Linked DNA regions of Homo sapiens: region 1 is linked to region 2. Evidence: fine-mapped expression QTL. A gene starts in region 2. The other region holds a variant in brackets. All regions are shown on one strand. Distances are between the middles of the regions. Region 1 has its middle 17 kb from the start of MGP. Region 2 holds the start of ARHGDIB (Rho GDP dissociation inhibitor beta).

Region 1 (2,918 bases), 93 kb before region 2:
TTTTCTTTAAGAATGTGGAATATTGGCCCCTAATCTCTTCTGGCTTGTAGGGTTTCTACTGAGAGGTCTGCTGTTAGTCTGATGGGCTTCCTTTCGTTAGGTGACCAAGCCTTTCTGTCTGGCTGCCCTTAACATTTTTTTCTTTCATTTTGACCTTGGAGAATCTGATGATTATGTGTCTTGGGGATTATCTTGTAAAGTATCTTACCAGGGTTATCTGCATTTCCTGAATTTGAATGTTGGCCTGTGTAGCTAGATTGCAGAAGTTCTCTGGGATGATACCCTGAAGTATGTTTTCCAAATTGATTCCAGCCTCTGCATCTCTTTTTGGTACCCAAATCTGTCATAGATTTAGTCTCTTTACGTAATCCCATATTGGAGGTTTCGTTCATTCCTTTTTCACTATTCTTGTCTGTCTGTAATTTCAGAAAGACAGTCTTCAAGCTCTGAGATTCTTTCCTCTGCTTGGTCTATTCTGCTATTAATACTTTGAATTGCATTGTGAAGTTCTTGTAGTGTGTTTTTTGGCTTTATAAGGTCGATTATGTTTCTCTCTATACTGGTTATTTTGGCTGTCTACTCCTGCATTGTTTTATCATGTTTCTTAGCTTCTTTGCATTGGGTTACAACATGCTCCTTTAGTTCAGCGAAGTTTGTTTGCTTGTTTTCATCCACATTCTGAAGACTACTTTTGTCATTTCAGCCATCTCAGCCTCAGCCCAGTTCTGAACCCTTGCTGGAGAGGTGTTGTGGTCATTTGGAGGAAAGGGGGCACTCTGGTTTTTTGAGTTTTCATTGTTTTTGCATTGATACTTTCTCATCTTTGTGGGCTTATCTACTTTTGATCTTTAAGGTTGCTCACCTTTGGATGGGTTCTTTTGTGTTTTCTTTTGTTGTTGTTATTGTTGTTTTTTCTTTGTTTGTTTTTCTTTTAACAGCCTGGCCATTCTTCTGTAGGGCTGCTGTGTTTGGCTGGGGGTCCAATCCAGACCCTAGTCACCTCGGTTTTTCTAGTACCTGAAGGTATCATCAGTGAATGCTGCAAAACAGCAAAGATGGCAGCCTGCCCCTCTCTCTGGGAGCTCTGCCCTGAGGGCTACTGACCTGTTGCTGGCCTAAACATGCCTGTACAAGGTGGCTGGAGACCCTGGTTGGGGTCACTAGGAACGAGATCAGGGACCTGCTTAAAGTATCAGTCTGGCTGCTTTTTGGTAGAGCAGCTGTGCTATGTTGAGGATCCCTTCAGCCCCCAATCCAAGGTCTGCAGGGTGGACTAGCTGAGATGCCCAAACAGCAAAGGTGGTGGCCTGCCCCATCTCGTGGGCTCCCCCATTCCAGGGAGAAATTAGAACTCTGTTGGTCATAGAACATGGGCAGGGGTGGCCTGGGGCCCCAGCTGGGAGGACCTGCCCAGCAAGGAGGAATGGATCCTGCCCCCTTTTATAGAAGCAGTCTGGCCACACCTTAACAAGACAGTCATGGAGTCCTGGGGACCCATCCCCGGCCATGTCAGCTTGGACTCACCAAAGCCCACAGGCTGGAATGGCTGAGTCACCCAAACAGCAAAGATGGTGACCTGCTCCTCCCCCTGGGCACCCAT[C/T]CCAGGGAGAAATCAGACCTCTGTCCTTAGAGCAGGGTAGCCAGAGGCCCTGACTGGGAGGACCTGCCCTGCAAGGAGGAGTGGATTGGGTTCCTGTTTGAAGAAACAGTCTGACTACACCTTGACAAAAGAGCTCTGCCATGCTGGGGAGCTGCCTCTGTGCTGGTCAACTTGCACTCTCCACACCCTGCAGGCTGGAGTGGCTTAGTTGTCCAAACAACCAAGGCGGTGGCCCACACCTCTCCCTCAGGGAGAGATCAGAACTCTGTCCATAGAAAATGGGCAGGAGTGGCCGAAGGTTCCAGATGGGAGGTCCTGCCCAGTGAGGAGGAATGTTTTGGGATACTGCTTAAAGAGGCAATCTGGGCACATTCTGGCAAAGCAGCTCTGCTGTGTTGGGGGGAATCTTTCCTTGTCCAGACCATTTGGATTTTCCAAAGCTCACAGGCTGGAATGGCTGAGTTGACCAAACAGCAGAGATGGTGGCCTGCCTCTGTCCTCCGGGTCTCTGACCCATCTCAGGCAGGCTCCACCCTGTTGCTAGTAGCTGGCTGGAATCCAAGCCAGTAGATCTTATCTTGTGAGGTACCGTGGAAGTGAGGCCCACAGACTGACACTGGCCCCCTGGATTCAGCTCCCTTCCTAGGGGTATATACAGGTCTCCTGCCTTGCTGAGGATCCCAAAGCCAGAGTAGGTAAAGCTCCTGGGTCTCTGTGTGTGCCTGAGCAGCTGCTGTGCTGAGACTCTACACAGCTCTGTGTGTCGGACCCAAGGCCCTGTGGTGTGGGCTCACAAGGGAATCTCTTGATTTGACAGTTGCAAAGATCTGTGGGAGAAGTCTGGTTTCTTGGGGTCACACAGTCACTCACTGCTTCCTGTGGCTGGGGATGGGGGTTCCCTTGGCTCTGTGTTGCTCTCAGGTGGGCTATCGCCCCACCCTGCTTTTCTATGTTCTCCATGGGTCAAGCTGTTTTCCTGATCAGCCTCACTGCGAGTACCTGGATATTTCAGTTGGAGGTGTGGTATTCACTTGCTCCTTTCTTTCCTCTTTGTGAGAGCCAGGTACCACAGCTGCTTCTAATTGGCCATCTCTGCCCTCTCCCCATCAGCTTCATTTCCGGTACATCACACAAACCATAGCAAAATAAAATGTGTAATACATGCTTGTATTAGTTTAATTACACTTAAGATTATGAGTCACAGAGACGCTTAGAAAATAATAGAAACTCCTTTCTTTCCTTTATTGTCAAACTCTTAGTTACCTATCTGCTTCTGACCACATTTAATTCACAGCTATGGTTTCGATAAGACCTAAAG
Region 2 (2,918 bases):
TTGAATTTTTCTCAAACCTGTCTCTTAATACGTTATTTGGTGTTTTCCATGTTTGCTGTTAGTTATCTCATACCTAAAGGGCTATTATCATTATTAATATTTTTATTTTTTGAGCCAGAGTTTCGCTCTTGTTGCCCATGCTGGAGTGCAATGGCGTGATCTTGGCTCACTGCAACCCCTGCCTCCTGGGTTCAAGTGATTCTCCTGCCTCAGCCTCCCAAATAACTGGGATTACAGGGATGCACCACCACACCCAGCTAATTTTGTATTTTCAGTAGAGATGGGGTTTCACCATGTTGGTCAAGCCGGTCTTGAACTCCTGACCTCAGGTGATCTACCCGCCTCGGCCTCCCAAAGTGCTGGGATTGCAGGCGTGAGCCACCACGCCCAGCCCTATTATTATTTTTGACAACAACAGCAAAGATCTGCCCATCCGACTGCAGGAATTTAATACACAGCCTTTGTCAGTGGTAGAAATTCTATCACTGTATGACTCATGAGTACATAACAATGTGCTATACCATACTTCCTCTTTGAGGGATAAAGCCCCTGCACTCTAAGGGAGGATTTCATTATGCATTTCTCTTATATCACCAGAAAATTATTTAGTGGAAGACAGTTTAATATTTGACAGCTTTGAACCATTTTTTTTTCTCTTTCAACCAGTCTTTTTACATTGTCTGCTTAAAAACAGGAAACCACATATCTCCACCCCAGCACAACCCACCATCCACCAGCACAGACCGTATCATTTTGGATCTACAGTCTTTTTCTTCCAAGCCTGGCCAGGTGCCTGCTCCTACTTTGCAGGAAACCCCTCCAGGCACTCCCGGTGCGTGTTCTCAGAGCCCTTCTGAGAATATTCAGGATTGCACTTCCTGGGCTGCAGCGCACCCTGTACCCTCCTTTTTTAAGCCTCCTCCCCTGAGTCACTGCTACCCTTCCCTCCTCTAACTTCCCCTTCTCTGCAGCCTCCTTAGCAATTTCTTATCATAAAGTTTGTTTTAAAGAAGAACTGCCCCTCTAAAAAAATAATAAACTGTCGAGGGCGGTAGCCCCGTCTAGAGGTTTCCGACTTTGCTCTGTGCCCACCTGAAGCCTCCCCAGCCCGAGGTATTTGAACTTACATTCAGTGCTTCACGTCTCTGTCCGGGGTGCCTCTGTCTCTCAACTCTGACTTCTGAGTACTGGCAGTTAGAACAGGAAGGAAGTCAATGAGAAAAAAAAATGTTTTAGACCTACTTGAAGAGGAAACCCTGGGCTGTCTCAAATCCTGTTCCTTTGCACTGCCTATCTCTTGATCAGCCAACTTGAGCAGCATTCTTGTCAATTAATGGCACATGTGCGAGCATGACAGCCCGTGTGACGTGGAGATGCATGAATGTACACGCAAGAGTGTGGAGCCTATAGCTATGGGTATTATGAATAATTGTGAGGGTATTTCTGATAATCAGGTCATTGCAGTGCATAAGCCTATGGAGGTAAGGAGCCTGAAACCAGTAGCAATAAATTCACATCGGCTTTACTTTGTACCACTCACTTCTGTTCCCACTGGGTCCCCGCCAGCTTCATTATCAACCAGATACGTTGAAAGTTTGCTGGCAGTGAATGTAGAGTGCTAAGAAATGATGATTGTTAACTGCATATACTACGGTCCTAAATTTAAAAATGTGTCCTTAAACAGATTTTTGGAGTTTTGTTGGTTATAATTTCAAGACGTAGCTTTGTATTGCACTACAAACAGTCAAATATTGTTTTTAATAGTTTTGGCTGATTTTTCTTCAAATGAAACAAACAAGCAAGCGAAAGTACTGTCTTTGATGAAACCTAGGAAAGAAATTACAAAAGGAAGTAAAACTTCATTAATTCATAGTCTTCCAACTCAGAATTTGTGACAACTTAACAAGTGCCAAAATAGACTTTGTACCATATTTGAGGAAATGGTTTATGAAGTAATTTAAATGGGAACAAGTCTCGGAGGCCATGTTTAAACCATCTGAGGAACAGTTTTTAAGCAGCCAAGTCACATTCATGCTGTATATTCCCGTAGCTGTTACCAATAATAAATGCTTATTTAGGTTAATATTTCAATATTCAGTATTTACACTACATCAATATATTTAGATCTGACTAAGCACACAAATTTGGAGAAACTGACGTTTATTTTGTTTTCACCTAAATGTACTGCATCTTCTTCATTTCCCTTTGTAAATTGATACCACAGGGTTTGCCTTCTACTTAGAGTCAATGAAATCGGAATAATCAAGGGAGTCATTTCACGTGAGAAGAGATTAGCCTAGAAAAATATGAAAAGGAAAATAGTATATAATTAAAATGAGCAAAAATACTAAAAGCCTAATACCACTTTATTCTATAAATTTTAAAATAGCATAGACAGAATACAGCCCTTGAAACAATGTACATAACTTTATTGTAAAAACAAAGCAAACCCTAATTTACACAGAAGGCAGTAACTTACACATTCTATAGCTCTGCACCCTCAAGAGGGGATACATTTATTCATTCCATAACATTTATCGAGCACCTCTTTTCTTTCAAGTACTGTTCTAGTTCCCTTGTGCAGCAATAGACCGCAGGCGACATCTCTGCTGCCCTGTGGAACTTATGTTGTACCTAGGAGACAATTAAAATAACACAGGCAGAATACATTAATTGTAACAAGAAATATTTAAAAATGAAAAATGGTAAATGCATGGTCTCTATTCCACCACTCATTTCTCATGTTATTAGGGAACACCTCACTAGGCAAACCTGGCTTTTTTTTTCCCTCCAGAGCCCAGTGTATATCGGAGGGTATGGGAGCACCCCTTCCCAGAAAAATCTGTAAAATCAATACATATTTTACAGATTTGTATTATAGATTAATGTATTTATTGGGGGATGAGAGAGCATTCATA

The links. PIP is the estimated chance that this variant, and not a neighbour inherited with it, causes the effect.
Region 1: its variant is the best candidate, but not a certain one, in a credible set for the expression of ARHGDIB in nasal epithelium (TOPMed, PIP 0.70).

The regions. Positions count from the first base shown.
Region 1 is chr12:14,867,497-14,870,414 of GRCh38, forward strand. No RefSeq gene overlaps it. Among named protein-coding and RNA genes, the nearest start is that of MGP, 17 kb to the right of the region's middle. The variant C/T (reference allele first, on the strand shown) is at 1,601.
Region 2 is chr12:14,960,410-14,963,327 of GRCh38, forward strand. It overlaps ARHGDIB (Rho GDP dissociation inhibitor beta), which reads right to left and starts at 1,192. Exons shown (of 6, transcript NM_001175.7): 1 at 1,128-1,192. RefSeq lists an enhancer at 895-1,014.